Linked DNA regions of Homo sapiens: region 1 is linked to region 2. Evidence: fine-mapped expression QTL. A gene starts in region 2. The other region holds a variant in brackets. All regions are shown on one strand. Distances are from middle to middle.

What was found. PIP is the estimated chance that this variant, and not a neighbour inherited with it, causes the effect.
Region 1: its variant is the best candidate, but not a certain one, in a credible set for the expression of DRC2 in atrial appendage (GTEx, PIP 0.53).

Annotation. Positions count from the first base shown.
Region 1 is chr12:48,873,139-48,877,526 of GRCh38, reverse strand. No RefSeq gene overlaps it. Among named protein-coding and RNA genes, the nearest start is that of RND1, 9.5 kb to the right of the region's middle. The variant A/G (reference allele first, on the strand shown) is at 2,211.
Region 2 is chr12:48,901,919-48,906,306 of GRCh38, reverse strand. It overlaps DRC2 (dynein regulatory complex subunit 2), which reads right to left and starts at 2,174. Exons shown (of 8, transcript NM_033124.5): 1 at 1,839-2,174; 2 at 1,194-1,361. The coding sequence starts at 1,970. It also overlaps the pseudogene RPL32P27. RefSeq lists a silencer at 2,168-2,217.

The DNA.
Region 1 (4,388 bases), 29 kb after region 2:
TCAGTTGATTGCTTGGCCATCTCTGTCCCACCCACTGGCCCAACGCTGGGTTTCTGGAGCACATCCTCTGGTGCTTCTTGGAAAACTGGGTTGATAGAGCTGGAGGGGTCTTGGGGAGTGGCTCCGACCTCACACTGTATAGAGGAGAATGCCGAGGCCCAAAGAGAGCAAGAGTCTTGACTAGGCCCATTCCCACAGTCTACTAATAATACCGAGTACCTGCTGTTCCCAGGCACTGTTCTAGGTATGATACCAAAGTGAGAAGGTCACTGCACCTACAGAGTCCACCTTATCATAGTGAGGGAGAAAGACGATCAACAAAAAAATAGGTCAACAAAAACCATAAACTAGAAAAATATCAGAGTGATAAAGGCCATACTGAGAACATGAAAGAGAAGGATCAGGTGGCTACTTCAGGCTAGCTGACTTCTCTGGACAGGAGACACTTAACCTGAGATGTAAAGGATGAAAAGGTGCCAATGCGGGCAGTCAGGGGGAAGGGCATTGTTGGTAGAGGGAACAGCCAGTGAAAAGGCCCTGAGTATAAGTTTGGTGTGTGAGCACAGTGGATAGTGAAATCAATGTAGTGAGTCCTGACAAGCATTCAAAAAATGAAGTAGCCAGGCACAGTGGCTCACACCTGTAATCCCAGCACTTTGGGAGGCCGAGGCGGGCAGATCACAAGGTCAGGAGATCGAGACCATCCTAGCCAACATGGTGAAACCCCGTCTCTACTAAAAATAAAAAATTTAGCTGGGCGTGGTGGTGCACTCCTATAGTCCCAGCTACTTGGGAGGCTGAGGCAGGAGAATCACTTGAACCCGGGAGGCGGAGGTTGCAGTGAGCCACTGCACTCCAGCCTGGTGACAGAATGAGACTCCATCTTAAAAAAAAAAAAAAAGAAAAAGAAAAAGAAGTAGAAAAGAAAATATCAGAATGCATTGTAAAGGTTAATGTTTGAGGAAACTTTAGGAGACATATACATATATGCATGCAGAGATATATATAGTGTGATATATATTGATATATCTATATCTCTAAATATAGCATGAGTGTATGTTTTGGACTGTGATATAACATGTATTTCTGACTGTGACTTGTGAATAGAAAAGTTTTAAAGCCATTATTGGAGGAATTTTAAAAAGTTCAATATAGCTGGAGAGAGGAGAACTGCAGGAGATGAGGTCAGCCAGGGGGCAAGCATAAGTCATGTATGGCTCTAGGAACCAGGATAAGAAGTTGGATTTTATTCAAAATGGACTTGATGGCTGGGCTCGGTGGCTCACGCCTGTAATCCCAGCACTTTTGGTGGCTGAGGTGGGCAGATTGCTTGAGCCCAGGAGTTCAAGATCAGTCTGGGCAACATAGGGAGACCCCTGTCTCTACAAAAAATAGATAAAAAAATTAGCCAGTCATGGTGGCTCATGCCTTTAGTCCCAGCTACTCAGAAGGCTGAGATAGGCAGATTGATTGAACCCAGGAGGTTGAGGCTTCGGTGAGCCATGATCGTACCACTGCACTCAAGCCTGGATGGCAGAGTGAGACCCTGACTCAATTGAAAAAAAAAAAAAAGCCAGGCAAAGTGGTTTAGGCCTGTAATCCCAGCACTTTGGGAGGCCAAGGTGGGAGATCCCTTGAGCCCAGGAGTTTGAGACTAGCCTAGGAAACATAGCAAAACCCCATCTGTACAAAAAATACAAAAATTAGCCAGGTGTGCTGGTGCATGCCTGTGGTCCCAGCTGCTTGGGAAGCTGAGGTGGGAGGATTGTTTGAGCTCGGGAGGTGGAGGCTGCACCTCCCGAGGTGCAGATGGAGGTGAGCCGTAATCAAGCCACTGCACTCCAGCCTAGGTGACAGAGTGAGACTGTCTCAAAAAAAAAGTGGACTTGATGCCACAGGAAGACTTTAAGCAGAGGATGAACGTTATCTATGTAGTTTCTTGTGCTTTGTTTGTTTGTTTGTTTGAGACAGAGTCTTGCGCTGACGCCCCAGGTACAAGTGATTCTCCTGCCTCAGCCTCCGGAGTAGCTGGGATAATAGGCACGTGCCACCATGCCCAGCTAATTTTTTATTTTTAATAGGGGTTTAGCTGGGATTACAGGCATGAGCCACCTCGCCCAGCCTCTTGTGTTTGTTTTTAACCTAGCCATTTAGAAATAGAGAAACTAAATCTCCTTATAGCCATTTTCCTACCATAGCTGGTTTACCTC[A/G]CTTTTGCAGGCGAGAAATCCAGGGATGGGCAGGGGAGGGTTAGACTTATGTCCACCTTTGCCAGATCAAGAAAGACCTCCCAGAGGGGCCCAGGAGAGTAGATGCAAGAGCATCCCCAGGGAGGCTGTCACAGGGGGTGAGAAGGAGGAGGATCAAAAGAGGGTAAAACAGGCCGAGCACCGTGGCTCACGCTTGTAATCCCAGCACTTTGGGAGGCCAAGGCAGGCAGATCACCTGAGGTCAGGAGTTCAAAACCAGTCTGGCCAACGTGGTGAAAACCCATCTCTACTAAAAATACAAAAATTAGCTGGGTGTGGTGGCACCTGCCTGTAATCCCAGCTACTGGGGAGGCTGAGACAGGAGAATCGCTTGAACCCAGGAGGTGGAGGTTGCAGTGAGCCAAGATTGTGCCATTGCACTCCAGCCTGGGCGACAGAGCGAGACTGTCTGAAGGAAAAAAAAAAAAAAAAAGAGGGTAAAACAGGCTGAGGGAATTGCTGCTACCTAGGAGGATGAGGAGGTGGGAACTGAAGAGGAAGTAGGCCTGGCTCAGGGTCCACATCATTTCCCAACTCACTCCGGTGCTCCTGAGGTCCTTTCCTGCCTCGGAATTACTCTCTCCCATTCACCCAGCAAGTGTTCACCTTAGTCTTGGCCAAGCCCTGGGGTAGTGGCAAGAGAAGGCAGGAAGGCCTGCATGTGTGGTCTCCAGTCTCCTGACCCCAAGTGTGGCTACTCTGAACTCCCTTCAGCTGCCCTCTGCTCCTCTCTGTGCTTCCATTCCCTACCCCCAACTCAGCCAGAACGAGATGGAACACAGGCTTCTTCACCATCACTATCTTCACCACCTTCTTCTGTTTTTTTTTTTTTGTTGTTGTTGTTGTTTAATTTAATTTTATTTTTTGAGACAGGGTCTTGCTCTGTCACCCAGGTTGGAGTGCAGTGGCTCCATCACAGCTCACTGCAGCCTTGACCTCCTGGGCCCAAGTGATCCTCCCACCTCAGCCTCCTGAGTAGCTGGGACTACAGGTGCGTGCACCACTGTGCCCGGCTAGTTTTTCATTTTTTAATTTTGTAGAGATGGGTCTTACCAGGTTGATCAGGCTGGTTTCCAACTCCTGGGCTCAAGCAATCCTCCTGCCTTGGCCTCCAAAAGTGTTGGGATTACAGGCGTGAGCCACTGTACCTGGCCCCTTCCTCTATTTTCACTCTGGCCCCATCCTCGGCCACCTCCATACCTTCCTCCTAATTTTTTTTTAGTTTGAGAAGGCTCCAGTCTTCCCTCCTCATTCTTCTTCTTCTTTTCTTCTTCTTCTTCTTTTTTTTTTTTGGGACAGTCTCACTCTGTCGCCCAGTCTGGAGTGCAGTGGTGCAATCTCAGCTCACTGCAAACTCTGCCTCCTGGGTTCAAGGGATTCATTCTCCTGCCTCAGCCTCCCGAGCAGCTGGGATTACAGGCACACACACCATGCCCGGCTAATTTTTGTATTTTTAGTAGAGACAGGGTTTTTCCATGTTGGCCAGGCTGGTCTTAAACTCCTGACCTCAGGTGATCCGCCCACCCCAGCCTCGCAAAGTGCTGGGAATACAGGCGTGAGCCACCGCGCCCAGCCTCCCTCCTCATTCTTAGTCCAGCTCAGGTGGCTTGTTTTGTTTTGTTTTTTCTCCTCCTATTCACACATGCATACACACACATGCACTGGTCCTCTTCCGCAGGCCTCCTTCTCCTGCTTCCAAGCCATCCCATTCTCCTAGAACACTCCCTCTGGCCCACCTCTCAGCATCCTATTCTTGCTTTGCCTCATAGCTCAGTGCTACTTTTTCCAGAAAGTTTTACTGGAAAATTCTCCTTCTTTTTGTTTTTCCTTTAGCTCTCTCACCACTTATGTAACAATGCTCAGCTCCCAGGAAGAGGAGCAGAAGAGGAGCTGAGAAGGAGAAAGCAGCTCCCGGCAGCCAGGAACTTGCCTGGCAGTCTTAGCAATGCTTTGGTTTTCTCGTAAGCATTTCACAGAATACCAACATTAGGCAAGGCAATGCTGTGACCGACCTCGAGAGATCCAGACAGAAATAAGATCTCTCAGTAATCATATCTGAACAAAGAGAGAAACAAGAACATTGTCCAAACCACAAGAATAACCAACCATCCATGCATCCAAGCTAACATAAGCCAATGC
Region 2 (4,388 bases):
AAAATCCATAAGGTGTAACTGGTGGGGTATGTGGACTTCTAATGAATAATGGTTATTGCAAATTTGAGGACTCTTAATATTTATCTCTGGAAGCTGCCCAGGGTCTGCTGAGCTCTTTCCCCAGGGATTAGGCTATGAAAGAGAAATGTGTGTTTTCTAGAGGGGGAATACCATGTTGGCAATGTATATTTTGCTGTTACTGTGGGCTTTGTTTTGTTGAAAATGGAAAAGACTCTGGCTGGGTGCAGTGGCTCACGCCTGTAATCCCAGCACTTTGGGAGGCCAAGGCGGGTGGGTCACAAGGTCAGGAGATCGAGACCATCCTGGCCAACATGGTGAAACCCCCATCTCAACTAAAAATACAAAAATTAGCCAGGCATGGTGGCACATGCCTGTAGTCACAGCTACTCGGGAGGCTGAGGCAGAAGAATCACTTGAACCTGGGAGGCAGAGGTTGCACTGAGCCGAGATTGTGCCACTGCACTCCAGCCTGGCAACAGAGCAAGACTCCATGTCAAATAAATAAATAAATAAATAATGGAAAAGACTAAGGAGAAGGCAGTAAATGGAGGCAGAATATTAAAAGTAAGACAAAAGAAGGGGTACAGAAAATCCCTTAGAAGAAAAGATAGGATGGAATCAAGAACTCAAGAACCTCCCAAGAGCATAAGGATGGCTGATTGAATTGCTTAGAAATCCAGAACTGCTCTTACCCATGGAGATCTTCTCAACCTTATCCAGGGCCACTGAAGTTGAATCAAGAGGCCAAACAATTTAGTTGAATGGAGCACTGCAGTGGGAATCAATAAACACATGCTGGAGTCCTGGTTCTCTCACTGACTAGCTATGTGACCTTGGGCAAGTCAGTTCCCCTCTGGAACTGAGCCTTCTGACATTGAAATGAAGGTGTGGGACTCATTTCAAGTCACTGGGTGATGTCTACTGTGCCTTATGACTCTACTATTGGATAGTACTGGTTTTGGGCAATAGATGACAAGAAGAGTGGGTCCTCTAAGGGAGAGAGGGATGAAAGCCCAATATTCTATTTTTTATTTCTGTGAAAACCATTATTACCAATAGCCTGGCTTTCTCACAGCCTGTGTCTTGTGAGGGCTTTAAGATGGATTCACTAGGCTCATTCTATTAAGAGGTCAGGAAGCCATACTCAAGGTTTCCTTGGAAAGAGTGCCTACCTTGATGACATTGTCCTTACAGTCCACCACTCGTTCAAATGTTTGGCTGAGGATCTCAATGTCCTTATGAAGTTCTCTGGTCTTGACTTCCCGAAGGACAGTTCTCCACTGTGTGTTAATCTTATTAAGGTTCAGAGCACTGTTGTGTTCCTCCTTGGCCAGCTTGTCCTGTGTGAAGGAATAAATATACCTCCAGGAAGTCAGGGCCTTTCAGTACAACAAACAAGATCACTCTTAATTTATCAGCTGACACCTTACCCCTTTTCGATGGGAACGGCCTGATGGCATTTAGGGAGGGCAAGGGTGAATTTCCTTCAGGGTGGGAGCATCAGAGTAGGATGTTGTTTGTAATGACCTATCTCCAGGGAGAATATCAGCATTCCAGACAGCTGGAACAGCTGACAGGACCTACGGTCCCAGTTCTGGGATTCAGTAAAGATTGCCAAGCCGTATACCACGCACCCCCTCCGTGCTTCGCAGAGAACACCCCCGCCTCCCAAACAATGTTGCCTGAAATCTAAGTATATCTGGGTCTCAGGATTTCCGGAGGAGGGGAGGTCAGGATGAAAATGAGGTTTCCTCAGTGACAGGGCCAGGGCAGGGGGTGGATGGGGTTGAGCAGGACATAATGCAAAAGGCCATCACCTTCAAGAACTGGCTGAGGAGCCTCTCCTTCTTTTTGGCCATCTCCTCCTCTGCCAGCAACTTCTGCTGAAACAGAAGCAGCTGCTTCTCATCGGACAGGGGCGTCTTGGCCATTTTTTCTTTCTTAGGCATGGGGGCAGGGGATTGGATCCGGGAAAGAAGCCTCGGTCTGCCTCGGCCCGCGTTACAGAGCTTAGAAGAAAAATGTCCCTAGAAAGGGGACTTCCAGAAGTGCCCCTGGTTGTGGGCGGTTGTGGGACCGGAGATCTCAGCCCTCGAACAGGAGAGATCCCCGGCTATCAGTGAGGCTGAGCTCTCCCACTGTAAGACGCGTCTAGTCTCCTAGCAACGAGGATATCGCTAACATGGAGAGGCAACAGGCTAGAAGAGTCCCTGTCTTGGAGCGCCCCCTACCCAGTGGAGGACCGCGGTCGGTTTTTGAGAGGGTCCTTTTAACTCTCAAAAATCTGTCTCCTCAGTGCATTTTATTTATTTATTTATTTATTTATTTATTTATTTATTTATTTATTTTTGACATAGAGTCTCTCTCTGTCGCCTAGGATGGGCACGATCTCGGCTCACTGCAACCTCCGCCTCCCGGGTTCAAGCAATTCTCCTGTCTCAGCCTCCCCTCAGTGCACTTTTATAAACCGTCCTCAGAACCCTTGGGAAGCCCAAGATCGTCAAAAAGAGAACCAAGAAGTTTATCCGGCACCAGTCTGACCGATATGTCAAAATTAAGCGTAACCGGCGGAAACCCAGAGGTATTGACAACAGGGTTCGTGGAAGGTTCAAGGGTTAGATCTTGATGCCCAACATTGATTATGGGAGCAACAAGAAAACAAAGCACATGCTGCCCAGTGGCTTCCGGAAATTCCTGGTCCACACGTCAAGGAGCTGGAAGTGCTGCTGTTGTGCAACAAATCTTACTGTGCTGAGATCGCTCACAATGTTTCCTCCAAGAACCGCAAAGCCATCGTGGAAAAGAGCTGCCCAGCTGGCCGTCAGAGTCACCAACCCCAATCCCAGGCTGCGCAGCAAAGAAAATGAGTAGACAGCTCATGTGTATGTTTTCTGTTTAAATAAAACTGTAAAAACTGCAAACAACAACAACAACAAAAACCTTTTTTAAAAAGATAAGTGTTGGAGAGAATGTGGAGAAACGAGAACCCTCATATATTGGTGGTAGAAATGTAAAATGGTGTAGCCACTTTGGAAAACAGTTTGGCAATTTTTTAAAATGTTAAACATAAATTTACCATGTGACCCAATAATTTCACTCTTAGGGATCTGCCTAAGAGAAATGAAAGCATGTATACACACAAAAACTTGCACAGGAATTTTCTTATCTGTCTCACTCATAATAGCCCAGTTGGAAAAATTGGAGACAACCTAAATGTCCATTAACATGTGAATGAGTAGACAAAATATGCTATGTCCATACAATGGAATATTATTCAGAACAAACTATGGATACCAGCTACAATGTGGATGAACCTCAAAAAGAATATGCAGGCTGGGCGCTGTGCCTCACACCTGTAATCCCAGCACTTTGGGAGGCCGAGGCGGGAGGATCGTTTTAGCCCAAGAGATCGAGACTAGCTTGAGCAATGTGGCGAAACCCCTTCTCCACAAAAAATACAAAAGAAGTTAGCTGGGCGTGGTGGTGCGTACCTGTTGTCCCAGCTACCCCAGGAGGCTGAGGTGAGAAGATCACCTGAGCCCCAGAGGTCAAGCCATAGTCAAGCCACTGCACTCCAGTTGGGTGACAGAGCAGCCCTGTATCAAAAAGAAACAACAACAAAAACAAAACAAACAAACCCTTTTTTTTTTTTTAAGACTGGAGTCTCACTCTGTCACCCAGGCTGGAGTGCAGTGCGTGATCTCGGCTCACTGCAACCTCCACCGCCCGGGTTCAAGAAATTCTCCTGCCTCAGCCTCCCGAGTAGCTGGACTACAGGTGTCACCACCATGCCTGCCTAATTTTTGTATTTTTAGTAGAGACGGGGTTTCATCATCTTGGCCAGGTTGGTCTCAAACTCCTGACCTCAAATGATCCACCAACCTCGGCCTCCCAAAGTGCTGGGATTACAGGCGTGAGCCACCATGTTCGGCCAAAAAAACCCCTATGCTCAGTGAAATAAGCCAGACACAAGTGATTACATATTGTATGGTTCCATTTATATGAAATATCCGGAAAAGGCCAAGCTATAAAGACAGAAAGTAGATTACTTTCTTTTCTTCTCCCTTCCCTTCCCTTCCTTTCTTTCTCTCTTTCTCTCTCCCTCTCCCTCTCTCTCTCCTTTTTTGACTGAGTCTTTCTCTGTTGCCCAGGCTGGAGTGAGGTGGCACAGTCTCGGCTCACTGCAACCTGCACCTCCCAGGTTCAAGTGATTCTCCTGCCTCAGCTTCCCAAGTAGCTGGGATTACAGGCACCCGCTACCACACCCGGCTAATTTTTTGTATTTTTAGTAGAGATGGGGTTTCACCATGTTGGATCACCTAAGGTCGGGAGTTCGGGACCAGCCTGACCAACATGGAGAAACCCCA